4 linked regions of the Homo sapiens genome follow. The protein of the gene in region 1 interacts with the protein of each later gene in a pairwise test. Each region holds a gene or a part of one and is shown on either strand. Other genes may lie near its edges.

Region 1 (7,028 bases):
GTTTGGTGGCTTGTATCTAGCGGGTGGTAGTGGAAGAGGTAAGTAGCCAGATTCTAAATATGCTTTGAAGGTAGACAGGGTTTGCTGATGGATTGGATGTGAGGTAAAGAGAAACAGAGGAATTAAGCATAACTCAAAGGTTTTTTTTTTTCTTGGACACATTCCACATTTTATTTACATTTTCAGACTAACTTTGGGCTGGGTGCTGTGCCTCATGCCTGTAATCTCAGCACTTCGGGAGGCCAAGGCAAGTGGATCACTTGAGATCAGGAGTTCCAGACCAGCCTGGCCAACATGGTGAAACCTTGTCTGTACTAAAAATACAAAAATTAGCCAGGCGTGGTGGCATGTGCCTGTAGTCCTAGCTACTCGGGAGGCTGAGGCAGGAGGATTGCTTGAGCCCAGTAGGCAGAGGTTGCAGTGAGCTGAGATCATGCCACTGCATTCCAGCCTGGGCAACAGAGAGAGGCTCCATCTCAAAAAAAAAAAAAAAAGACCAACTTTAGTTTCAAAATTATATCTCCATATATGTATCCCTTTTTTGTTGATGTCACTTAACCTTAAGTGCATAGTTTGTTAAAAAAAAAAAACTGTAAGCAAATATTTACCATGTCTGTTACGTGTAACACACATGAACAGCTTTTAACAGAAATTCATCAACTCCCCCCCAACATTTTTTATTATAAGATAGGTATCAAAACAATCCTGAACATATTTTTCATACTACTAGTAGTCAGCACCCACACCACTTCAAAAATTAACACATTTGTGCTGGATGTGGTAGTTTTTACCCATAATCCCAACACTTTGGGAGGCTGAGGCAGGCAGATCACCTGAGTTCAGGAGTTCGAGACCAGCCTGGCCAGCATGGTGAAACCCCATCTCTACTAAAAATACAAAAATAAGCTGGGCATGGTGGTGCATGCCTGTAGTCCCAGCTACTTGGGAGGCTGAGGTAGGAGAATCGCTTGAACCTGGGAGGTTGTAGTGAGCCAAGATCTCATCACTGCATTCCAGCCTGGGCAACAGAACAAGACTCCATCTCAAAAAAATAAAAAAAATTAAAAAAATCAAACACATTTGTGACAGTGTTCATTGTACCTGCTACTTTTTTTTTTTTTTTTAATTTAACGGAGTCTTGCTCTGTCGCCTAGGCTGGGGTACAGTGGTGCGATCTTGGCTTACCACAATCTCCGCCTCCCAGGTTCAAGTATAATCCCAGTAGCTGGGATTACAGGTGCCCGCCTGGCTAATTTTTGTATTTTTAGTAGAGACGGGGTTTCGCCATGTTGGCCAGGCTGGTCTCTCTAACTCCTCACCTCAAGTGATCAACCCTCCTTGGCCTCCTAAAGTGCTGGGATTACAGGCGTGAGCCACTATGCCTGGCCAATACCTGCTACTTTTTAAACAATTTCAACTGCAGCTCTCTTTCACTAAGCAAGATGGATAAAGCATGCCATTTCTGTTTTCTTTTTTCTTGAGACAGAATTTTGCTCTTGTTGCCCAGGCTGGAGTACAATGGCACGATCTCGGCTCACCACAACCTCCACCTCCGGGGTTCAAGCAGTTCTGCCTCCGCCTCCCAAGTAGCTGGGATTACAGGCATGGGCCACCACGCCCTGCTAATTTTGTATTTTTAGTAGAGACAGGGTTTCTCCATGTTGGTCAGGCTGGTCTCAAACTCCTGACCTCAGGTGATCTGCCCACCTTGGCCTCCCAAAGTGCTGGCATTAAAGGTGTGAGCCACCTCTCCTGGCCTCTGTTTTCTTTTTCCTTTCCTTTTTTGTTTGAGATGGGGGTCTTACTCTGTCACTCAGGCTAGAGTGCAGTGGTGCGATCTCAGCTCACTGCAACTTCTGCCTCCCGGGATCAAGCGATCATCCTACCTCAGTCTCCTAAGTAGCTGGGACTACAGGCGCGTGCTACCACGCCTGGTTAATTTTTGGATTTTTTGTAGGGACGGACTTTCACTATGTTGGCCAGGCTGGTCTTGAACTCCTGGCCTCAAGTGATCTGCTCGCCTGAGCCTCCCAAAGTGCTGGGATTACAGACATGAGCCACTGTGCCCAGCCCTGTTTTCTTTATTGAGATTTTTAGTCTTTAGAAACACACATGCTTCCACTGCCATCTGACACTTCTTACCACGCTTTCATCTTGTAAACCTGAATTATATTTCGAGTACTCCAAGTTTATGTTTAAATGACAGTACCTTAACAAGAGAAAAAAATTGGGTTGCATTTTTCCTGTTACCTGAAAACATAATGGGTGTACATATATTAAATATATTCTTACAAATGTCCAGGTCATGTTTACCAGCCGGAGTTCTTTTATTTAACGTGTGGGTATTTTGCATTGTGATATTTAATCAAGACATTAACACGAGTAGAAGGTTGTTGATATAAGACAAGTTTGAGATCCACTAAAATTAATTGTTGTATGTTTGTCCTTCCAGTGGCTGTGGAAGCTTCATATTTTCTTTGGACATCATTAGACGTCTTAGCTCCTGAAGTACAACTTTAATGCTATATGAATTTTGTCATTTTGCTAACACTGGTGTGCTGCGGTCATCCACCATCCCACTGGAGTTATTTATTCCATTCATATTAATTCTTGTTACAAATCTAACTGATGGGGGAGCTTCTGGGTATTTGGGTCCACTTTCTATTTTCAGGCTATATATTCTTTTTTTTTATTTTTGAGACAGAGGCTCGCGCTGTGGCCCACACGGGAGCGCAGTGGCGTGATCTCGGCTCACTGCAACCTCTGCTTCCTAGGTTCATGTGATTCTCCTGCCTCAGCTTCCCGAGTAGCTGGGATTACAGGTGCACACCACCACACCCAGCTAATTTTTTGTATTTTTAGTAGAGATGAGGTTTCACTATGTTGGGCAGACTAGTCTCAAACTCCTGACCTCGTGATCTGCCCTCCTTGGCCTCCCAAAGTTCTGGGATTATAGGTGTGAACTGCCATGCCCGGCCTATATTCTCTTTTCATAATTTGTCCTTGGTGGCCCAATAATCATGCCTGTCCACCTTGTAAATGTCATATCTTCATCATCTTTAAGGCCCCAGTTAATCATACCATTGCCTATCAATAGCTGCATAAGCATAACTCAAAGGTTTTGACCTGAGAACTGGAAGATACCATCTGGAGTGATGTCATCATGTGAGAAGGGCAAGGCTGGGGATAGAACAAGTTTTGGGGGAAAAGCAAGCAATTGACTTCGTGGTTTTTTGTTTTGTTTTTTGTTTGTTTTGAGACAGAGTCTCACTCCGTCTCCCAGGCTGGAGTGCAGTGGCATGATCTCGGCTCACTGCAGCCTCTGCCTCCCGGGTTCAAGTGATTCTCAGCCTCCCAAGTAGCTGGGATTACAGGCGTCTGCCACCATGCCTGGCTAATTTTGTATTTTTAGCAGAGACGGTGTTTCACCATGTTGTCCAGACTGGTCTCAAACTCCTGACCTCAGGTGATCCACCCACCTTGGCCTACCAAAGTGCTGGGATTACAGGCATGAGCCACTGCGCCTGGCCAACTTTGGACATCTTAATGTCTATTAAATCTCCTAACAAAGATGTCAAATGGGTAGTTCAAGTTCAGAGAAGCCTGGGCTAGAGATTACATATCTGGGAGTCATTGGTCTATAGATAAAGTTGTAGGACTGGGTGAGGTCATCAAGGGGGAGGGAGTGTTGGTAGAAAAGTCAGTCCTGGTCTGAGCCCTGGGACACTCCCACATTAGAGGTGGGGGAAGAAAAGGCACAGGTAAAGGGGATGTGAGCAAGCATCCAGAGGAGTAAGAGGAAAATCAAAAGGCTGTGGTGGCCTGGCAGCTAATTATAAAAAGTTCAGTGAAGGAAATCAATGAGGTGGTGTAATAGAAAGTACAAGGTGGTGGTGAAGGGAAGAGGCTGTCTTTGTGAAAGTGACGTTCAAACTAGGACTTGAAGACGGAAGGATAAGGAGCTGGCCACGGGGTGGAATTGGAGTCTGATTGTGATGCTGAGTCCTCCAGGGCTGAAGGACCACTAAGTGCAAATGTGGTGGGTGAGAGAGAGTGTGACATTGGCTAGGATCTACTGAAAGGTCTGTGTGAGCCAGAGGGGGCATGAGACACAGTTGGTGAGTTAGGCAGGGTCTCTGTCATGGCGATCTTAACCAGTCCTACTCCCCAACCTCCAGGGCTCAGTCCTTGGGCCTCTTTTCTCTATCTCCATGTACTCCCTTGGTGATGTAGCTCATGGCTTCAGATGCCATCTGTTAAGCTAGTGACTCTTAAACTCCAGACTCATATCCAACTTCTTGCTCAGCAACTTCTCCTAGAACTGTCTCATAAACATCTCAAGCTTAACATGTCTGAGACCAAATTCTGATCTTCTCCCCAAGGAAACCTGCTTCGCCCACAGCTTTTTCCCCATTTTGCTCAATGGCAGCTTCATCCTAGTTCTTCAGGCCAAAAGCTGTGGGCATCGTCCTTGACTCCCACGTCTCACATCCAGTTCATCAGCAAATTCTGTTGACTCTCCTTTCAAAATGCATGTAGGATCTGACCACTTCTTACCGTGTCCAGCCACCACTGTGATCATCTGTCCCTGGATTTTTGCGGCAGGCTCCCAACTGGTCTCTTTACCTCTGTTCTGGTCCCATTCAGGCTGTTCCCACTCAGCCACCAGAGTAATTCTGTTAAAATATAGGGCAGCCCTGTCAGTCCTGCTTAGAACTCTTCAGTGGCTCCCATCTTGCTCAGAGTAAAGGCCAGGGTCTTTACAGTGACTCCCTAGGGCCCTACATTCTTTGCCCACCTTTTGCCCTCCCCCCAGTTCTCTGACCCACCCTCCTCCTTTCTTCCTGCTCATCCTGGGCCAGCCACACTGCCCTTTCTAGTCCAGGAGCATGCACAACCCCTCCTGCCCCTCCCTCAGGTCCTTTGTAGATGCAGCTTCCTCTGTTTGAAATGCTTTTCCTGCTTCTAACCATGTGGTTCACTTTCTCACTTCCTTCACCTATTTGCCCAAATGTCAGCTGCTCAGTGAGGCCTTGCTTTCTACCTTGCTTAAAATTACACACCCACTCCGTGCCCCCACCTGATACTTCCCCTGCTGCTCTTCTCTGCATTAGTTTTCCTCATAGCACATGTTACCTTCTAATGTGCCATATAAAGTACTTAATTGGTTAATTATCTTCCCCCTTCGACTGCGAGCTCCCTCCCTGCAGTCAGGGATTTCTGTCTCTGGTATTAGCTGAACCCCTAGCACCCAGAGCACTGCCTGGCATGTAATATTACTTAGTAAATATCCAGTGAACAAATGGGAAGGCATTGAAATATACTGAGCAGAGTAGTGACATAATCTGGTTTAAGATTTTTTAAACATTGTCTTTTATTGACATATAATTGACACACAGTGAAATGCACAGGTTTTTAGTGTTGCAGCTTGATGAATTTTGATAAATGTATACAGTTGCATAACCCACACCCCGTCATCATCCAGAACACTTCCATCACCCCCAAAAGCTTCCCAGTGCTTCTTGCCTGTCAATCCCACACTCCCTGCCCCCATCCAGAGACAGGAAAAGAACCACTGTTCTGATTCCTCTCACAGAGATTAGTTTTGCCTGTCATATAAATGGAACCTTTCACTATGAACTATGTATGTATGTATGTATGTGTATTTATTTCAGTCTGAGCTCTCGTCTGGCTTCTTTTGCTCAGCGTGATGTTTTTGAGATTCATTGTTTTATTGCGTGTATCAGTAGTTCCTTTTTTTGCTGACTAGCATTCCATTGTAACATACCACAACTTCTTTTTATCCATTCTCCTTTTCAGGGACATTTGGATTGCTTCCATATTTTGGCTATTACGTCTGAACATTCATGTTCAAGTCTTTTTGTGGATATTTGTTTTCATTTTTCTTGGGTAAATGCCCAGGAGTAGAATTGCTGGGTCACAGGGCAGATGATGTTTAATTTTATGAGAAACTGCCAAACTGTTTTCTGAAGTGGTTGTACTTCTTTACACTCCCCCCAGCAAGTGTTCCAGTTGCTCTGCGTCTTGCCAACTTTTTGACTTAAGTCTTAACAGATTCATTCTGGCTGCCGTGTGGAGAACCGGCCCAGTATTTCACTGTGTAAGCTCATTCAGAAAATGGGGTTGGGAGAGGAGGAATGCCTAAAAGGAAATTCCCAGATGGGCCACGTCTCTGAATCAGGTAGAGCACATGAAGCCTTGGGCCATGTATCAAATGCTAGGAAACAGCTTTCTCCCCAAGGGCTCTACTGTTTTCTTGTGTCAGATAACCAGATCTTTTTCCTCCCCAGAGTGGGTTGCTCTTGGTTTTGGGGTGGGGACAGAGATCTCTGCTCAACCTTGCTTACATCACTTTTTTTTTTTTTTTTTTTCAAAAGACAGAGTTTAGCTCTTGTTGACCAGGCTGGAGTACAATGGTGCGACCTCTGCTCACTGCAACCTCTGCCTCCTGGTTCAAGCGATTCTCCTGCCTCAGCCTCCCGAGTAGCTGGGATTACAGGCGTGCACCACCATGCCCGGCTAATTTTTTTTTGTATTTTTAGTAGAGATGGGGTTTCTCCGTGTTGGTCAGGCTGGTCTTGACTTCCTGACCTCAGTTGATCCACCCGCTGTGGCCTCCCAAAGTGCTGGAATTACAGCGTGAGCCACTGTGCCTGGCCTTTTTTTTTCTTGAGACGGAGTTTTGCTCTTGTTGCCCAGGCTGGAGTGCAATGGCACGATCTCGGCTCACCACATCCTCTGCCTCCAGGGTTCAAGCGGTTCTTCTGCCTCAGCCTCCCGAGTAGCTGGGATTACAGACATGCGCCACTACACCCGGCTAATTTTTTGTATTTTTAGTGGAGATGGGGTTTCTCCATGTTGGTCAGGCTGGTCTCGAACCCCTGACCTCAGGTGATCCACCTGCTTCAGCCTCCCAAAGTGCTGGGATTACAGGCGTGAGCCACCATACCTGGCCGCTTACATTGCTTTTTGCCGAGTGATCTAAGGAGGTGTTCTTGGAGACTCCA
Region 2 (7,028 bases), on another chromosome or scaffold:
TATTCAGTACTTGGTATATATTCCCTCATTTAATCATTGCAACATATTTGTGAGGTTTGCACTTTTTAATAAATGAATATTGGGAAAAGGATAGCACTAGAGTTCAACCCCAGGTCTGCCTAACTCCATTGCCCATCTTCTTAACTACTGCATCAGAAGCAGTAATACATTTCTGGATATTCATGGAAGTCTCAGGTATAACTGTCCAAGCTGCTGGAGCTATTTCCAGAAAATATGAGTATAGCAGTCCTGATTATGGGTCCCTTGCTTTGTATAATGCAGAGGGTGTTCTGGGTCTGGAAATAAGAAATCCATAAACATATCACTAAGGGGAGCTCAGAAGGGGAGGTCTGTGGGCTTAGGCTAACAGGGAGGACTTCTTGGAGGAGGTCTCCAACAGAGCGCCTGGCACAAAGCAGCACTCTGACAGGAACTTTCAAAGATCAGTTCTCCAAAGACCCTGCTGGTGACCTTCGTAGTAATTATGGCATTTTTCAGGATTAAAAAAAAAAAAAAGATCTGACTTTGTTTCAATCTTTTCACATGGAAGCTGCACTTGGGAGCTGCCCATGGCCTATTTTAAAGAAATCTGAAACATTTTACGTCACGTAAATCCCTCATGGCTTGCCTTGTCTGGACACTTTCACAATGTCTCTCTAATTGTATCAGCTTTCTGATGATACCTTAAAAGTATGGTTTCTTCTGGTTTCTCACTTGTATAAAGAATTAAGCAGAAAGAGGATTTCATTACCTTTTCTAAAACACCCTAATCCAAGATGACTCACTTAAAAAAAATTACTGGAAAGCACAATATATTAAACTCTCATATAACCAATCCCACAAATGTATAAATATTTGAAACGCATCTTTTACATAAAGGCAGATAATGTGAAATTGTGTTAATTGCAAGTGGCAGGATTTCCCTTACCAAAACCTACCAGTGTTTCTAGGAGTGCTGATTGTTGAAATCTCTTTCCTAGGAATGGAGCTATGTTCAGGTCAGGGACATAAGGCTTTATTTAGCAACAGAGAACACCAGAAATAGGACAGCCATTATCTTGTATCCCAGGGGGAAGCTTACGTTTTATACTATATCTCAGCACTTTCGTCTATTTTTGGCTTCCAAGGGTAGGTGCGAGCACAGCTTGAATGTTAATAGTCACAACTTACCAAGCAAAGCTAATTTTGCTGAGGGACTTGGGCTCCTTTAAAAGGCACTGTCATATAACAGTGTTCACGCTTCAGCAATGGAGAGTCAGCGAGGTTCATAGATGTGTTAAGATTTGAAATATAGTCTGAACATATAAATTCCAGGCAAGCATATGCTGCCCAGGAGCTGAAGAAGGTGTTCCATGTTTTATGTTGGTTAAAAAGTCTGTACGCTTATTAAGGAAAAAAATTAGTGGCAGTGCTATTTATATTGAAATGTACATATACATTTATTTACTTAGTCTACTACAGCTTTTTTTATGTGGCATCTAAGTGCTAGATGTAAATATAAAGATATTTGGGGAGAAAGACAGACACAGAGGTGTCTACTTCCTTAAACAAACAGCAGCCATATCTGTGGTTGTTTCTAATGCACAGAAGGGCTGAGGAGACCAGGTTGGGATGACAGCAAAGCTTTGCTTAGTACAAGTATTTCTGTGTAATGAGACCATGATCTCCTGAGCAGTGACTGACAAAGTGGGAAGAAAACACCATGAGTGATGTGGAATTAACTTCAGCTCCCAGAAATATGGATATCTTGGGAACACTTCCCTGCTGAAGAGAAGAACGTTTCAACCTGTTTCTCTTTGTTATTTTTTTTTTCCTATTTTAATCTTTCACAGAAAGGAATGATCAGACAGAGCAGGAAGAAAGAAGAGAAATCAAGCAAAGATTGACAAGAAAGGTAGTATAAGCATTTTATTGCCTGAATAATAAAAGGTGGTCTAGAGAACAGCTGCTTCGGTAGCAGGTGGGATGGGTAATGCTAGGTATCACTCTGTGATCATGAATAATGTTCTCCTGGACATCATGGCATCAGTTAAATCAGGATATTTGCTCAGCAACAATGAATTAACTCCCTCTGACGTTCCCTATGGACGAAGTCCTTCCCTAGCACGGTAGCACTTGGAGAGGTGCACAATGCACATGACATTTTTTACTTATGTTCAGGTGGAAGCCAGAAGTTGATTGGCATTTTCTTAATTTACAGTGTCTAGGAAAAGCATACCTGGGTATCAGTGTTTTAGTCACATTTTACACTCATCGCTTTTGTTCACCTCCAATATGTCTAGAAGTTCCTCAGTTGCAGAAAGCTTTATTAGACTCAAAGGTTTGTTCTCTGTGACTCAAACAGTTAACATTTACTATGGCCAATACAGGTAGCAACTCTATAAATCTTAATCTACTTTTAAAGCCTTGACCATTTCTAAATTCAAGTGTTCTGGATTCCCCTTCTTCGTTGTGCTGCTCCATAATAATTCTCTTGAAATTAACAGAATATCCTTCCTAAGCTGGACATATAATAACTTTATTAGTACTTTTAAAAAGCTTATCTAATTGTATCTGAAGCCAGTGATGCCATAAAATCTAAGTTAATTCACTAACCATTCCTTGAGCTGGTGCTATGTACTACTGGGGGTGTGACTCCTTCTGATAAAATATGTTGGAGGAAGGGGGATTGTGATTTAAGAGTACAGTATATAATTTCAGCCCTTCACATTAGAGATTGCTTGTATTTGGGTTATATTTTCCAGTTTCAGGTTTTTTTTGTTTTGTTTTGTTTTTTAAGAGAAGTGCTGTTTGTTCAGAGTACTTCAAAAAAGCTAGTTTGGCATGTGATACTTAACTATGATGATCTTTAATTTTAGCTTAATCAGAGACCCACTGTTGATGAATTAAGAGACAGAAAAATTCTGATACGATTCAGTGATTACGTGGAAGTAGCAAAAGCGCAGGACTATGACAGGAGGGCAGACAAACCCTGGACGAGACTGTCAGCAGCAGATAAGGTACCTAACTGCCTGTGCTGGTGGGGGGTGTTGGATGATATAATAAAGGCAAAATATGTCATGCCAGGGAGTTTATTCATAGACAATGGGAGCCCTCAACTATTTAAGGGTATACTGCAGTAAATATTGGTTTCTCAAAGATAATTCAGGGTCAGATTGAGAAGTGGTTCTCAGCTAGGTGACAGTTTTGCCCCGAGGGACATTTGGCAATGTCTAGAGACATTTTTGATTGTCACAACTCGGGATGCTACTGGCATCTCCTGGTAGAGGCCAGGGACACTGCTCAGCATCTCACAATGCACATAACAGCCCCCACAACAAAGGATTATCTAGTACCAAATGTCAAGACTGTGGAAATTGAGAAACCTTGGTATAAGGGATAAATCAAAGGTGGGCAAGGCTGCCATAAGAGATCAACTGACAAGTTTAAACAAAAAGAGCTACAGTGGGGACAAAGAGGCATTCAAGAAAGCCTCTACAGTATAGAAAAGGTTCTAGATTCTCCCCCTGGACTTGTGCAGTTTGAGGTATCTCTGAGAACCTCCTAAGAAGTCTGAACTGAACAGCTAGAGAGGCAGGAAGAACACAAGGAGGTAGTAGGTCATAGAGTCTCTGCATGACATTTGGTGAGCACAGAGAGGGTCAGTTCTTGTCTGTGATCAAACACTTGACTGGCAAGATTTAAGCCCAAGAGTGTCCATAGAGTTTTGTCACCTTCTTGCTTCTATTAATTTTCAGAAGACTTAAAGCCTTTAGGAAGAGAAAAATTATACATTCAGGCAAGGAATTTGCTAATTGTTCTTCATTCTTCATATGCTGAGTATGAGTATGTACACAGATATTGCATCAACTTGGAGAAATGTGAACGTGTTGGACTAACTTGCCTGGTTCTTTGTGACTGATGTGCCCAGAGGATCACAGTGATGCGAGGAGAAGTATCTTTGGTGGTCTGCAGATGTGTTTGAGTATGAGAATAATATACCCCTAAAGTTCTTAAAGACTTTCCTTGTCCCAGAGGCTGTGTTTGATGTTTTCAGTCTCATCAGGTCCCTCGAGTGTTTATCTGAGAAAGAAGTACATGATGCAAGTGGGCCTGGGGAAGCCAAAATATTAATGTATGCTGAAGTTAGAAAGGCTTATTTCTAGATTATCTCTGATTATAAAATTCCAAGTTCACCAAAAGCTGAAGTTTACTCATTATCTTGGTGTTCCTGTTTCATTAGTGCCCTAAGCATGTGCTTGGTCCGTTTAGGTATGGAGTGAACGGAGTTTGGGGAAGGGTTGTCTTCCCACTACAGTTCAGCAAATTAATGAATGGAACACTTACATAATACTAGTCCTAGCCAGAGCAATCGAGCAACAGAAAGAAAGGGCATCCAAACTGGAAAAGAGAAAGTCAAGTTATCCCTCTTTACAGACAATATGATCTTATACCTAGAGAAACCTAAAGACTCCACCAAAAACTTAGATCTGATAAATTCACTAAAGCCATAGGATACACAAAATCACACAAAAATTAGTAGCATTTCTATAAACTAATAATGGACTAGCTAAGAAAGAAATCAAGAAGGCAATCTTATTTAAAATAGGTACCAAAAATACCTGAAAATGAATTGAACCAAGGAGGTGAAAGACCTCTACAAGGAAAACTACAAAACAATGATGAAAGAAATTGAAGAGGCCACACACAAATGGAAAGATATCTCATGCTCATGGATAGAAAGGACTAATACTGCTAAAATGACCATAAAATGACCAATGCAATCCCTATCAAAATACCAATGTCATTTTTCACAAAAATAGTAAAAGCCATCCTAAAATTCATGTGAAACCCAAAAAGAACCTGAATAGCCAAAGTAATCCTTAGCAAAAAGAACAAAGCTGGAGGCATCACACTAACTTCAAAATGTATTATAAGGTTATACTACCAGCATAATATTGGTATAAAAGACACATAGACCAATGGAAAAGAATAGAAAACCCAGAAAAAATTCACTTATTTACAGCCAACTGATTTTTGACAAAGGTGCCAAGAACATAAACTGGGGAAAGGACACTCTTCAATAAATGGTGCTGGGAAAATTGGATATCCATATGGCAAAAGAATGAAACTGTACCCCTATTTCTTACTATATACAAAAATCAACTTGAAGAATAAAGACTTAAATGTAAGACCCCAAACTATAAAACCACTAAAAGAAAACACAGAAGAAACAGTCCAGGACATTGGTCTAGGCAAACATTTTATGGCTAAGACCTCAAAAGCACAGATAGCAACCAAAATAAACAAATGAGACTATATTAAACTACAAAGCTTCTACACAACAAATCAACAGAGTAAAGAGACAACAGGGAATATGAGAAAATATTAATATCTGCAAACTATTCATCCAAAAAGGGACTAATATCCAGAATATACAAGGAACTCAACAGTCAAAAAACAAAACAAATAATCCCATTAGAAAGTAGACAAAAGACATGAGTAGACATTTCTCAAAAGATGACATACAAATCGCCAACAGGTATATGGAAAAAATGCTCAACATCATTAATCAACAGGGAAATGCAAATCAAAACCACGATGAGATATCATCTTATTCCAGTTAGAATAGTTATTAAAAAAATAAAAACATGCTGGAAAGGATTAGGAGAAAAGTGAACTTTTATATACTGTTGATGGGAATGTAAATTAATGCAGCCATTATGGAAAACAGTATGGAGACTCCTCAAAATATTGTTTAAAAACTATATGATCCAGAAATGCCACTTCTAGGTATACACGCAAAGGAAATCAAATCAGTACATTGAAGAGATATCTGTACTCCCCTGTTCACTGCAGCATTATTAACAATAGCCAAGATACAAAATCATCCAAGTGTCCATCAATAGATTAATGGATAAAGAAAATGTAGTGCGTGTATATATGTATATGTGAATACAGTGTGTATACACAGCCACACAAAATGGAATATTCCACCTTAAGAAAATCCAGTCATTTTTGACAACATGTATGGAACTGGATGTTATTATGTTAAATAAGCCAGGCACAGAAAAACAAATATCGCATGTTCTCACTCATGTGGGATCAAAAAAGTTGATGTCATGGAGGTAGACAGTAGAATGATAGATACCAAAGGCTGGGAAGGGTGGCAGGGTTTGGGGAGAGAAAGAGAGGTTGGTTAACCAGTAGTAACATACAATTAGAAGGAATAAGTTCTAATGTTCTATAGCAGAGTAGGGTCACTACAGTTAACAACTATGTTGTGTATATTTCAAAACAGCTAGAAGAGAGGACTTAAAATGTTCCCAACACATAGAAATGATAAATACTGGAGGTAGACATCCTAAATACTTGATCATCACACAGTCTATGCATATAACAAAATATCACATGTACCCTGTATATATGTACAAATATTATGTATCAATAAAATTTTTACAAAGACTTCCAGAATATTAGCTACATACTAGCTTGGTAGGACTATAATAATGAGTATGGCAGTTTTAATGATGAACCAAAAAATTGTTTGTTTTTTTCTGTATATTACATAATAGAGTCAACAAGGATTAGGAATGGTTAATTTATAAACACGATGCTAATTTCCTGATTTTTTTAATATCCTGTAAAACAATGTCTTGTTTTTAAATTTCAGGCAGCAATTCGTAAAGAATTAAATGAGTACAAAAGTAATGAAATGGAGGTACATGCATCAAGCAAGCACTTGACAAGGTCAGATTTGTTTCTGTGAATTTCATGGTACTTATTTTTGAAACACACACCGCCTTCCCCCGTCCCCCGCCACAAACCATGTATCCAGCTATACAAATTCAGCATTTTTCCAGAGAACTCTATTGAACAAATAGAATGTACCTCAAGTAAGAATGCTGCCTGCTCCCATTATTTCCTTTAGGACTTGGTGAAAGGTGATATGTATGGTAACAATATCGGTTTATTTAAGTAGTTAATGCATATTTAACAAAAATAAGCCTCAAGGCAATGAAAGTAATTTTTCTGTGTATTTAATTCCC
Region 3 (7,028 bases), about 150 Mb from region 1:
TAGGAGGTTAACTAACTCTTTAGCCTGAAGCTGTTGGCAAGTCAGATACCACATGCCAAGTAACGTGCCACAGTAGTATTGCTTGGATCTTAGAAAATTATGGGATAATAATTACAGCAACTTTGCTCTAGGACCTTTGGAAGGAGTTCCCTCTGTTTCAAAGAAGTACAGCTAAAAATGGCTTTTCCTCCTCCTTACTCAGATATAGGAGGTATAGTAATGGTGAGGCTCTGGAGTCGGACTGCATGGGTTTGATTCCTAGTTTACTAGTTTACGCTTAGTAGCTCTGTGACCTACAGCTTTAATCATGCTGAGTCCCAGTTTCCTAATTTGTAAAATGCAATAATATCTGTATTACAGAATTGTTGTAAGGTTAAATAACATATGCAAAGTTCTTAGAGTAGTGGTTGGCACATAGAAAATGCTCAATAAAAATAAGTTTCGTTACAATTGAAAGATTAATAAAAAGAAAACAGACCTTTCACCTAAATATCAGGTGACTTCCCCTTTTCTCAAATTCCCAAGAAAAAAAATATAGTAGCATAAGATTTTATTTTTTTTTGAGATAGGATCTTGCTCTGTCTCCCAGGCTGGAGTGTAGTAGTGTAATCATGGTTCACAGCAGCCTGAAACTTCTGGGCTGAAGCAATCCTCCCGCCTCAGCCTCCCAAGTAGCTGGGACTACAGGTGTGCACCACCACATCCGGCTAATTTTTGTATTTTTTGTAGAGACAGGGTTTCACCATGTTGCCCAGGCTGGTATCCAACTCCTGAGCTCAAGCAATCTGCCTGCCTTCGCCTCCCAAAGTGCTGGGATTACAGGTGTAAGCCACTGTGCCTGGCCAGCATAGGATTTAAAATTTTAAAGTTGTTTCCTTGGCAAATGTCAATATATACTAACCTCCCGTGTAATAGCCATAAGCATAAAGAACTCGTCCAACAATCCAGGCCAAGCCCAGGCCAGAAGCTATACGCTAAGAAAAAAGGGCTACATTAGTATTTGCATGAAAGAAACAAGCAAACCTTTTTTAACACCTAGGGTTGATTACACAATATGTTAGCAAAAAGTTAACAATTTGATGATTTGGCCAACTACTCCCCACGCAAATTAGGTAGAATTAAGTTAGTTTCAGCGGGAAAATAAAATATCTGTGATTCTTCTATGAATGGCTTGGCTTGTGGACCTGGGAGATGAGTATTGGCCTTCTCCTAGACAGGTGGGATAGAAGGAATCCCCCCACTTGCCCTGGGCATCTTGGGGAACTTGTGTCAGAGCTCAAGAGAAGGACATGTGGGCCAGCCGGTCTCAGGGCAGGCCAGAAAAGAGAACTGCCCCAAAGTCAGGACTAGGGGAAATGCCGTTTTCTCAAATGGGCCTCTGAGCATGAGATTGACTGAAGACTCAGCTGCTGTTCTATGTGAAGTCAGTCACTGGCAGGGCTGGGCTCAGGTGGTTCTGCAGGCTACACTGGGGGTGTAGCTCCACTAGAAAGAAGGGGAGCGCTTCTCCCAGAATACATGGTCTTCGAGGGAAAAGTCTCCCTGTTCCCAATGTCCTTGAGAAGAGAGAATAAAAACTTAGATGAAAAATCCATCCCTTTGGCTGTCATGCTGGGGTGACTTCCTTGGTTAAAATAAGCAAGGAGAGAACACAGAAGACAGCATGTGAGAAGGCCGCCTTCCCCAGTGTCTTTCCCACTCAGCAGTGCTACTGTTAGGGATAAGGTTACTGCATCAGGGTTTTTGTTTGTTTGAGTTGATTTTGGGTAACATTAAATGTCAACAGGAGGGTGAAACAAATGAAAATAACACCAGTCCCTCAAGTCACGATATAGCAGCTCTAGTCTCTGCCAGGCCCTTCTTTACTATAATGTTGCCTAATGACTGGCAACCTAGGAACAATTGTTAGGTGCTTGTCCCCAAACTAGCTCTTATTTTTCAGAACTACCCATAAGGAATGGGATCCAGGGATGTGTGATAGGAATGGGGATGGAGTGGGGACACCAAATGAGGACTAATCTAGAGACCTGAGCTATTCAGATCAGCTAGTCTAGTCACTTGCTAGGAATGGGGATCTTTAGAGGCACCAGAAAGATACATTTTCTAAGAGATACAAGAGCAGTAGATGTTTCTTTGAAAAAAATGCAGGCCTTCAAGGTCATAAGCAGTAGATATGCCATTCTGGCAGCTTTTTAACAAAAGTACAAGGCATTCAGGATGAACCAGATGGTTAGGAAAGGCTTAGAACCAGAAGTCTGAAGGGCCACTCTGGTCAGAACTTGGTTTCAGGAGATAATCTGTCCTCAGAAAAGGGGAACACTTCTGTCTAAGACAAGACCCAAATGGCAATTAATTAGAGGCTGATAAACTTGCTTTATTTAGATATGTTTAAGTGCAGACTAAATCTCCATCCCACAGGGCTATCTATACTGCAGAGGCCTGCAAGTCCCCAGTGACCTGCCTCATCACCCCTCTGCCCTCTGTTGCTGCCCCTCTCCTGGCTCCATTGGCTTCTCACTGCTCACCAAACAAACCAGACAGGTGCCTGCCTCAGGCCTTGCTTGTCTTCTGGCTGGAGGTTGGGGAAACTCGTGCAGCACCTGCTCCCTCACCTCCTTTTATACTTGCTTAACTATCATCTCAGCAAAGCCCCCCTCCCTGACCACCCTATTCAAAATTATCCCACTCCACATCCCCTTTCCACCTTCCCCACTTTGTTTTCTTCTCTGCACTCACCACCTCCTAACACATGATGTAATTTACTTAGGTTGCTTCTTCTCTGTGACCACCCCACACCCCACAACAAAAAGGCAAGCTCTATGAAACCAGGGGTCTTTGTCTGCTTTGATCACTGCTTTACCCCAGGTGGTGAGTGAAAGTTTGTTGTGTGAATGAATTACTATAACAAATGAACTCTTATAGACATGAAACTTAGAACCAGACAGACCTGAGTTCAAATTCTAATCCTTCTACTCTGTAGCTATTTGACCTTGTGAAGTTTAAATAGTATATGAGAGGCTTTTCCTTATCTGTAAAATATGAGGAAAATCCCATCTCCTTTAAAGAACTCTGTAAGAAATAATTGAATAAAATCCTTTTAAATATGCAGTGCCTAGACACTGAAGATATTCATTAAATGTTTATTTCCTTCTTCTGTCCCTGATAATAGCTCAGTGAACTACTATCCAAATAGATGAACACCTCCTGGAAAACTTACCGGGTGGTAAACACCTCCAACAGCTAGAAAAAATAAGAAGGGAGGATACACTTCCAACCTGGAATTGACAGAAAGAAACTTTTAAAAAGTGCCCTTTTTAAGTATGCCTGTGTAGAATTATGAATTTTTTTTTTTTTTTTTTTGAGACGGAGTGTCTCTGTCACCCAGGCTGGAATGCAGTGGCATGATCTCAGCTCACTGCAACCTCCGCCTCCCGGGTTCAAGTAATTCTCATGCCTCAGCTTCCTGAGTAGCTGGGATTACAGGTGCGTGCCACCATGCCTGGCTAAGTTTTGTAGAGATGGGGTTTTGCCATGTTGACCAAGCTTGTCTCCAACTCCTGACCTCAAGTGATCCACCCACCTCGGCCTCCCAAAGTGCTGGGATTACAGGTGTGAGCCCACCTCACCCAGCCAGCACTATGAATCTTTACATCTTCCTTGCCAAGTTAGAAGCTTGGGGGTAAAAATAAACATTCACCGCAGGGAGAAGACCTGGTCACTATCATCCACCCTCCTTTGCTCTGCATGGGATTAGAGGTCACTTGGAACATGCTGAGTAAAAGGACCTCACATCTAACAAATGGAAGTGGAAGGTCCTGGTGAGTCAGAGTGGGTTTCCTTACAGCATTCAAAACCTCTTCACTCCCTAGGCCTGGGAGAGTCAACATCGGTTTAGATGGGTCATGCTGCAAAACTGTAGTAGGTAATGCAACCATGAAGACATTTTTTGAAAAGAATATCCCGAAATCCCACCATTCCAACCACTCTTAAGTTTGCTTAATAGTCAATGTGTTCACATACATAATTTTTGAATACTTTTAATGAGGTGCCCATGATTGTCACCATCACTATGACTCAGCAAATACAGCGCACTAAGGGCTGAGGTGTTAGACAGAAAACACCCACTCTGCAGATGTCTTTGGTGCCCGGCAGGGCCGACACTCACGTGTTCTGGTGGGCTCGCTGAATGCAGTTGAAGATGTGCCCATTTTCAGGGTCCGTGCTGTACATGATAGGATACTGTCACAACAAAGCACATACTGATCAGATGGTCAAGAGGAGCATTCAGTGTTGAAAGTTAAAATGAACCTTAAAAACAATATATTCCAAAGTATCTTCTTTCACACCCTTGATAGATGACCATTCAATTTCTGCTTAAATATTTATGGTGACAAGGGTCTCAATTCTCAGAAGCAGAGTCAATGTTTCTATTAAATATCCAGGAATAAGAATGTATGTCTGCGCTGTAGTTGCACAAGGGAAAGAGGCAGCTTTGCGCCAAACTCCGTGCTTTTCATTGACGTTAAGCATCAATGGTGGATTTCAGATGCATTACAAAGATACTGTAGGGAAATAGAGCCTTCCTAAGAGTCATCAAATACCACATCCTTTTAAGATTTCCCTTAATAGAAGAACAGAAATTGAGTGTGTGAGAATCTTAATGGAAGTGTCCACTGGAAGGGAAAAAAAAGAAGAAACTAAATATAAAAACTTAAAAGAAGCTCTAGTAAGGGAGTTTAATTATTAAGTTGCTAAACAGAAACAGACATTTAAAACCACTCACCAGGGACAACTTTGGTAATTATCCCTTCTAGATCACCTAAAACTAAAGGAAGTGTTTAATAGACCACCTTCCTATGTCTAAGTCCAGGCTAATCTCAACACCACATACCTCTTTTCTACTTGGAAAACAGGAAAATCACCATAAGACATCATTTTTAAAGTGGCACACCATGAAACAATATTGCTATTTAACCCTCTGTGGAAAATACAGTAACTCTCTTCCTAGCAAATAGCTCCAAGCAGAAGTGTACTATTGGAATCCCAGCATTCCTGGTCTTTCTACCGAAGAGACAAAGTCAAACAAGATGGAAACTACTCCCTAGCAGGGCCCTGTATTTCTTGCCTCTTTCCTACCATGAAGAAGCAGAATCGCTAACACAGTCCTGAAACTGCCACTTCTCACAACTAGCTCCTTGCCTCTCCCTCCATGGCTGAAAATAAGTTCTTGGCTAAGCCTGTGGCCCCCAGACAAGCCTACAAGGGCACCAGCTTGTGTTCCCACTTACCTCCACTTTGTACTTCTTGCGGGCCTTGGAAACATTGATGGCTAGGTGGGCCACCATTATAAAGCTGGCAGCACCAGTTAGAAGCACAAAACCATATTCCTTAGAGAGGACAGCCATCTTGCGTCTGTGGAAGAAAGAACACGTTGGGACGGCCCCCAGCACTGTGGCTATTTCATGGTGTGAAGCCTTAGGGAGCAAGATGCTTTATTACTGGCAAATGAGTAAATAGAGACCAAAAAAAGGTATGAATCAATCTGATGTTTCTGAGAAGTCATCAAAGACAGTACCATATAAAATAATTTAAAAATTACTCAACTATGCAGTCTATACACAGAAAAGTATACAGTCATGTATCTTTTTTTCTCTTTTGTGCCTGGGAGATTCTGATCAACATTATGAGATTTATCTACACCACTGCAGTAGTCGTTGCTGTAGAATAATATAGCCAACAAAAATCACATTATTGAAAAAATATTTAACATGGTAAAATGCTAAAGTATACATTACATAGGGAGGGGGAGGGAGGGAGTGAGAGGAGCAGGACATGGTGGGGAGAGGGATGGAGAGGGAGAGAGAGGGAGTGGGGAGGGAGGAGAGGGAGAGAGAGAGAGAGAGAAAGCAAGAAAGTGAGAAAGCAAGAAAGCGAGCATCCAAAATAGTATATGCACAGTGATTCCAAGTTTTTTGCCTTCAGACATGGGGGACACTGTGAGGGCAGGACTCTGAGGCCTCCCTTCGATCCTGGGGCACGTGCGGGTGCAGCAGCAGACATCTCACACAGGTAGGGGAAGGCCCAGGTTGAGTACTCTGAAAGCAGAGCATGGCTCCTGAGCCTATGAGGCTTTGGGCAGCTCCTGAGGAACTCAGATTGCCCATCAAATCATCACTTCAAAGGCTTCCACGAGCCAGCAGCTCTGGTGTGTGTTCTGCCGTCAGCTTTAAAATTTCCATCCCTGGTAATTGCCTGGCTTCAGTCCCTGCTTTTAACCTAGGAGAGTTACCCTGATCTGGAATGTATCTAATCATCCTAACAAACCAACCAACAAGATGGTAAATCCTTATTTTCAAAAGAGGTTAAGTAATGTTTCCAAGGTCTAAAACAGACAGTGACAGACCTGGGATTCCCATTCAGATTCATTTGGTTCCAATATTCCCTTTCAGTATCCCTTGAAACTTTAGAGCCAAACTGACACTGTGGTCAGAGCATCTTCCTTAAAACAGAATTTGGGATAGGCATGCAGCTCAGTTCATTAAAAGTAAGTTTCTCTTAGCACAGCAAAATAGGCCTAACTGCTTTTTTTTTTTTGAGATGGAGTTTCACTCTTGTCGCCCGGGCTGGAGTGCAGTGGCACGATCTCGGCTCACTGCAACCTCCATCTCCCGGGTTCAAGTGATTCTCCTGCCTCAGCCTCCCAAGTAGCTGGGATTACAGATGCGCACCACCACACCCAGCTAATTTTTGTATTTTTAGTAGAAACGAGGTTTTGCCATGTTGGCCAGGCTATTCTTGAACTCCTGAGCTCAGATGATCCACCCACCTCGGCCTCCCAAAGTGCTGGGATTACAGGTGTGAGCCACCGCACCCAGCCTAACAGGCCTAACTTCTTAAAACCCCTCCTCCCCACCATGATTCACAATAATTCTCATCAGTTTTCCCCTTCTACCGTCTTCACTCTGAGCTGCTCTCTGAGGCATGCCCGCTGCCCCTCCGGGGGCTGGGGGGCACACACTGCAGCGGGC
Region 4 (6,913 bases), on another chromosome or scaffold:
CTGGAGTTGTATGCATGCTCACTTGAGGCGTTCTTCCCTTACCAGCCAAGTGTTCCTAGAAGAAGGTTAGATGACAGTTAAACTGTGCCATTTTGCCTTAGTCCACATGCTTGAGCCCACTCACCTAAGTCCTGAGATGTCATCAGGAAGCTGCTGATCACCAGCTTCGGTGTTTCTGTCTATTGGGAGACCACTTTTTCTGGTGCCAGCTGTGACCAATTATTATTGTAGACGGACAGTTTAACAACTGCCTGACCATCACCTGACGGTCTCCTGGCATGCCTGGTGGGGAAGGCCCTCTTCTGCCCTGCTCATGTCTGACTAGCTACCTACTGTAACAAAAATAAGGAAAACACGTAGGAGATAAAAGTGTATCAAGGGAAAAGGGCATAACTCAATAATTGTTCTAAATTATCCTAAAGTTCTAAAGACCAGCCCCAAAATGCCTCAGAGCTAAAACCCCTCTGAAACCCCCTCCTTAGCAAAAATTCTTAACTTTTTACACCTAGAAATATTTCTTAAGAATTAAGATGTATTTCTTAATACATCTCCAAATTTATAATCAATCAAAGAAATACCAACCGCTGTTTACAGATATTCCCTAAATAAGAGACATGAATGAAATCCATCTGAAGTGGCTACTGCTGTCTGTGGTATATACCCTGGGGTTCATTGTCATGCACTGAGAAAGAATTCGGCACACAGACACAGGTGAGTGGGTTAAGGAGCAGAAAGTGTAATAGAAGAAAGGAGAGAGGAGGGGAGAGCAGCTCCTCACGAGCAAGAGACACGTGGAAAAGGGAGAAGGTAGAGGACCGCAGCAGATTTTATACGCAGGCTGGAGAAGGCGGTGTCTGATTTACAGAGGGCTCACAGGTTGGTTCACTCAGGTATGATGTCTACATAGTGTGCTGGGAAGGCTAGTTGCCCCACCCTAATCTTCTTATGCAAATGGACTTTCCAGTTGATTGGCACCATCTTGTCTGCTCGTTTACAGTACACGTGGCTAACAGAGACGGGAAGATGGGACCGCCATATTTAACATCTTTAGTCCTTAGTTCCTGCCCGCATTCACCTGTGCAAGCTCCCAGCTTGCAGGCTGCTTGCTCTCTTAGAAAATTATTTGGGGCTGATTTTCATTAAAAAGAAAAGCCTTACCTAGGACTCCCATACCCTTACTATCTGCCTAAGTAATTGCTTCTTAACTCCTATATCACATTCAGTACACTGGAAGTACAAATGTAAAATAGAATAATTTTAACACTTATCTCTTGATACTCTTTAAGATGTCCTTTTATAGACAAAATAAATTTTTTAAAATTTATGTTCCCATCTCTGCATTTTAAATATATTGTTTATCTGTGGTAGGGTTTTTGTGGAGAAAGCAGGCAGGGGAGTGAAACTGAAAAAGAACTAGGTCTCTTAATAGTTAGACCCACAACAGCTAAGGTCTTAAATCTAAAACAAGTACTGGCCCAAGGGTGGAGACCAAAAACTCCCAACCATCTTAGTTCTGGTGTCAGCCTGTCTAAGGCAAGGCCAGATCTACACATGGGCCAAGAAGATAGAATGGTTTATAAATTGCCGCAATCAATGACAGAGAAAAACAAGATTACCCAAAACAAATGACAGCCCGTCAAGATAATTCAGTTTGTTAATTTTACTAGCTAATAAGTCTCCATTACAGCTTTATATGTGGGAGACAAACCAGTCTCATCTGTATGACATAATCAATCAATTATAAAAGTCACTGTGAGATTTGGAGCACTGATTTACCCTGAAAGATCTTCTCCCCCAGGCCTTGCCTTCACCTGAAATCATAAAATAGATATATAAGTGAGATTTCAGACAAGCTAAACACAATGTAGTTTGAGAGACCAGGCTCTCAGGAGCTCAGAGGAGCCACAATTTGCAGCTCTGAAGCACAGCTCGCCTGATTTTCAGATGTGGCTGCAGTCTCTTAGTTACACCCATGCAGATCACTTTATCAGAACTCTACGGAATAAATGAATGAATTCAGTTAAGCCAATTGCTCTTGTCTCTGGTGTTTATCAAATCCCAGGCTGTGTTAATGGGATCCATCTCATTCAACACGTGCTCTTATGCCATTCACAAAGTGCTATTGCCCACATCACCCCGGCAGCTGTTTCAAGTAGGGGAGTTTTCAAAGTATTTGAAGGAGACAAATAGGTTACTTCCAACTCTTGACTTTCTTATTTAGTCTAATATCTTGTAAGAAAGATACTTTGTGAAATCATTCTACTGGTAAAAGTATATATCATCAAAATTAGCAGGCATACCCATAGCAGCTTCACAGATTAAACAGAATGCCCTTTACACAACTATAGTCAACATGGGTTGTTCTTTTAATGTTCTAAGGCTGTGTCCACCGAAATCCTGCATCTTGCATTTGTATTCCTGGTCTCTCAGGGATTATTTGGTTCAGTTGTTCTTTGTTTATTTGTAACACTATCACTAGATCCAGCAGGCATTGTGGAGCACGTATTACACATACTACAGATATTACACATACTCATATCTTCTGTATATGGGATATATGACTCAGAAGTAATAGCAAGTCAGATTACAACCTCTTAGGGAAAATCAACAGCAAATACAAGCTCACAGGCCGTGTGTACGGTTGACTTTTACATGACTTTGGATGCAAATTGACACAAACACCTCTCCATATTACAGTCATTTTTAGAGGGCAGACAGCATTCTTGAGGGGACCTGAATTGCTAGGTAATTAAAATGTATGTATGTAGAATAAAATAATCTTGGAAATAAGAGGTTTCCGTAAGCCTTCTCTCTAAAATAAGGTCACCTTCTTTGAGGTAGAGATTCTGTGCCTTGTGGAAGGAAAGCCACTTCATAAAGCAGCACAAGAATAGCCAGTTATTGAAAGGGCCATTATAAAATTACTAGCCAATGGTATTCGCTACTCTTACAATTTGTCAATCCATTCATCCCTAGGAAAAAGACAGCATAAAAGAGAGTTCTGTTCATAGGTAGAAGCAATTTATGGGAAGACTTTGGAAATGTAGAACCATTGTTTTTGATGACCATAAGAAAAAGAGGGGGTGCAAGAGGGGAGCACTATGAGGGGCCCCTGGAATAACAGCACAAAGCAAGTTAGATTCAAAGAGTGGAGTAGACCTTTGTCTAAGGGGCTTATCCTGACAAATTCAACTTTGAAGGCAGCCTGGGTCATTCTTGGAAAAGGCCATTCTTTGTCTCCAGTGACCCCAGAGACATCATATAAGGATGGGGTGATGATGCAGCAGCCGGGACCAGGTCCCAGTTGCAGTGGACAGGACAGAAGGGACTGAATGGGGCAGCAGGCTGGGGCGCCACCAGGTGCAAGCAAAGCTCAGGGATAGGGCCCCTCCCCTCCGTCCCGGCCGCTCGCTGCGCCCCCTCTGGGCGGTGCAGGCTCCGGCTCCCGCGCCGGGGCTGCCTCTCACGGATTTCAGCCCGGTGGGAGGCAGTGCCCAGAGCCTCTTTTTCCTTATCTCACAAAACCCTAAAAGCCGAACCCCTACAACCAGCAGACAAAACTGCTCCCCGAGCTTCGGCTCTTTCCTGCTTTCCAGGCGTTTCTCCGGGAATAACTTACTTAGTGGCACTGGGAGAAAGGTTGGGACTGGGGGGTCGGGGACCGAAACCCAAAAGATTCCCCCAGCATGGAGCACCCACGTTTCCAGTGGCGGGGGATGCACGTTGGTTTGTGCCCAGCCCGCCCCCACCAAGCCCGGTCCTCGACGCGCTGACACGCTAGCTGGCATGGGCGGCGGGGTGGGCGTCTCTGGGTCTGTGGCTCTGTCCTGCTCGCCCCCGCCCCTTCCTCCCGGACCGCGCCGGCGCTGTGCGGCTTTTTCCCCAGCACGCGGCGCTGCACTCGCTTTTATCTCGGAGCCGCGTCGCTTCGTGCGCTGCCAGCGGGGCTCAGCCAGTCGGCTGGAATTGAGTAGCATTCATTGAATCTGCGGATTTCATGACGTCTCTCTGCGTGGTCCACCACTTTTCTCCTAACCGGGGATTTTTTTTTTCTTCTGCCACTCTTATCTTTCCCCACTTCATTCCACCCAGTCTCCCTCCCCCGTCCCTGCCCAAACGCGCGCCCCTCCGCCCCTCCCTTGGCCCCAGCGCCCAGCCCTGCTCTCCGCGCTCGGCCAGAGGGAGCCAGTCCGGAGACGGCCGCACCTGGCTGGAGAGGCTGGGCGGGCGGAGGGGTGGAGACCCGCGGACGCCGGGAAGCCGGACCTGGAGCCGGAGCAGCCGCGAGCAGAATGGAGTCTCCTAACAGCCTCTCGGTGCTGATGTGAAATTTGACCATCTGATTCCAGTTTTTTTCTTTTCCTTTTCTTTTTTGCATTTCCTTCCCTCGCCATCCGTCGTGTAGTGAATTGTTCAGTCTTGCTCCGTTTCAAGAGAGGAGATCATGATTGAGTGAAGCCACCCCGTCCGCAGCCAGGTAAGCGGTGCGCTGAGCTGCTCGCAGGCGAGGAGCTGGCGTCCACCTGGGCGAGGCGTTCCGTGCTCTCGGGTCCCCGCGTCCCCTTCCCCAGCTCCGCCGTCGCCGCAGGCATCTCCACTCTCATGAGAAACATTGTGCCCAAGTCAGCCGAAAGGCGAGGGAGAAGCCGGTTACATAACAGAAGGGGAATCTGTTTCATACGGTTTTCATTAGCGACTGAAACTCGCACGGGGGGCGGGGGAAGGAGGGGTCTGCATCCCTGGGCTCGCAGAAACCCAGTCAGTTATTGCAGACATCATTTCAACATCCGCTGGCAAAGACTTAAATGCACTGATTAACTGACAGGTGCGGCTTGTGATGTAGTCATTTACAGTTGGGAAAAGCCTATTGTCTTTGTGGAAGGCAGTCTTCTTGTTCTGCTTTGCATGGAGAGGAGAGGAGACAACACGAAAGGGAGGAAAAGTGAGGGTTGGGGAGAAACATGCGGAGAATGGGAAACAGAATACTGTAACTCCTAACTGTTCTCTATCCTTAAAACCGAAGATGTGCTAGCATGACTAAAAACAGTGAATAGGAAGATCTTCCTAGGAGTAAACTGAATTATTTTGTAATTGGAAGGGAAGAAAAAACACTTTAGATAAAATGAGATGTGTGTGGCATTTAGAGGACTGGGTGGCTGTGGATATTTGCTTCCCTGTGGATATATTTTCATTTTCATCAAAACATTAAGCTTGGATTAGTTTTTAAGTGAAATAACATCAGTATTCCCAAAACCCAATAAAAGCCCAGTGGATCCACAGGTACATCTGTTGTACTAGGTGCAATATGGAGAGATTGTCAGGGGGAAAATATATCTTAATAGAAACAGCCACAGAGGGTGAGGTTAGTGGAGAAACAAAATACCAGAATTTTCCAAAGAATTCCGCCTCCAACCCCCAAAAAAAGGAAGAGAAAAAAAAAAAAACCCCACAACTCCAGTGTTTGGGAGTTGGAGATGTATTATATGTTTAGAGTGTTTCCCAACTGCTGTTATCCAAAGTCTGTCGGTCCCGGGGAGCCCTACGGTACAGGGAGCAATGCCACATCCTGCTAGCCCTGTTCCCTGCCTGCCTTTCTTTTGCTGAAAAAAAGAAACGGAAAAGGGTGATGCCCAGGAACTGCTTAGGGAGAAAAAAGGGCTTGCTACAGTCAGGGCTGAGCTAACTGAGCTTCGCCCATTTTGCCTGGAGAAAGAAAAAGAGCTCGAGTCTCCATGGCGACCCAGGTGGGAGGGGAGACCGCAGCTCCAGTTATAGGGGAAAAAAATTGGACAAAACTTTCCCGGCTCCAGGCAAAGGAATACGCCAGCCGCGTGCCCTGTGGCGGGTCCCAGGGCATCGGTTGTGCCCAACTCCCTGACGGCGACGCTCGAGAGGGCGCCCAGAGCTGGCCGGGTGCCCCTGAAACCTCCCGAAAGTTGCCTGGGGGCCGCCGAGGTGGTGGTTCCTCAGCGGGTTCCGGATTCAGCACCAAGGCCAGAGCCCAGGCGCCGAGGGTGAAGCCTCACCTGTCTGCAGCCCCCAGCAAGCAGTACCCACTCCTTTGGTCGCTGGAGGTCAATCACTTTCTATAAATAAATGAGTCTTTGGCTCGTGCAGAATCTGGATATCAAATTACCCACGGAATTACGTGAGGCAAAGAAGCTTGCAAATCATCCATTTTATGCATGGCGGTGCATCAGAGGACCTATTCAGAATCAAGAACACTGGGACAGGGAAAGACCTGAGCTGAACTGAGAGTGGAGACAGGATTCTGTCCTCAGGGGGAGAAAAAGGACGCGCGCGCGCACAGACACACACACACACACACACACACACACACACACACACACACCCCGATCCGCCTCTGACGAGGGTTGCTAGTTTCAGCTGAGTCCCTTTGGCTTTCAAAAGCATGCATCCCTTGCCCTCTCACGCTCTTCTCTTTAACTTTTTGTTGGGCATAGATGGCAGAAGGGAGCTGTGGAAGCACCCTGGTCAGCGAGAGGCCAGCCAACCAAGTTTGTTATTTCTTTCTTTCTTTTTTAGACGGAGTCTCGCTGTGTCACCCAGGCTAGAGTGCAGTGGCTCGATCTCGGCTCACTGCAACCTCTGCGTCCCGGTTTCAAGCGATTCTCCTACCTCAGCCTCCTGAGTAGCTGGGATTACAGGCGCACACCACAACACCTGGCTAATTTTTGTATTTTTAGTAGAGACGGGGTTTCACCATGTTGGTCAGGCTGGTCTCGAACTCATGACGTTGTGATCCGCCTGCCTCAGCCTCCCAGAGTGCTGGGATTACAGGCGTGAGCCACCGTATCCGGCCCAGCCAAATTCTTTCTAAGGGTCCTAGGACTGAAGAGGGTGGAGATATAGTTTCCTCTCGGTCTAGAACTGGAAGGAATCAAAACAACAC

Evidence for each region.
Region 2: the proteins of UBIAD1 (region 1) and PHACTR3 interact in binary tests that used the Homo sapiens proteins (3 or more experiments, as listed by UniProt).
Region 3: the proteins of UBIAD1 (region 1) and MGST3 interact in binary tests that used the Homo sapiens proteins (3 or more experiments, as listed by UniProt).
Region 4: the proteins of UBIAD1 (region 1) and KCNJ6 interact in binary tests that used the Homo sapiens proteins (3 or more experiments, as listed by UniProt).

Annotation. Positions count from the first base shown.
Region 1 is NC_000001.11:11,276,186-11,283,213, forward strand, and holds part of UBIAD1 (ubiA prenyltransferase domain-containing protein 1), read left to right. Parts: intron 1-2,228; exon of another isoform or gene 2,229-2,688; intron 2,689-2,991; exon of another isoform or gene 2,992-3,090; intron 3,091-7,028. UniProt on the Homo sapiens protein: Prenyltransferase that mediates the formation of menaquinone-4 (MK-4) and coenzyme Q10. MK-4 is a vitamin K2 isoform present at high concentrations in the brain, kidney and pancreas, and is required for endothelial cell development.
Region 2 is NC_000020.11:59,838,537-59,845,564, forward strand, and holds part of PHACTR3 (phosphatase and actin regulator 3), read left to right. Parts: intron 1-1,832; coding exon 1,833-1,894; intron 1,895-2,858; coding exon 2,859-2,999; intron 3,000-6,652; coding exon 6,653-6,729; intron 6,730-7,028.
Region 3 is NC_000001.11:165,648,225-165,655,252, reverse strand, and holds part of MGST3 (glutathione S-transferase 3, mitochondrial), read right to left. Parts: intron 5,413-7,028; coding exon of another isoform or gene 5,406-5,412; coding exon 5,289-5,405; intron 4,240-5,288; coding exon 4,166-4,239; intron 3,276-4,165; coding exon 3,218-3,275; intron 975-3,217; coding exon 902-974; intron 1-901. UniProt on the Homo sapiens protein: Displays both glutathione S-transferase and glutathione peroxidase activities toward oxyeicosanoids, as part of cellular detoxification as well as synthesis of bioactive metabolites.
Region 4 is NC_000021.9:37,913,448-37,920,360, reverse strand, and holds the start of KCNJ6 (G protein-activated inward rectifier potassium channel 2), read left to right. Parts: upstream 1-3,903; 5' UTR 3,904-4,477; intron 4,478-6,913. UniProt on the Homo sapiens protein: Inward rectifier potassium channels are characterized by a greater tendency to allow potassium to flow into the cell rather than out of it.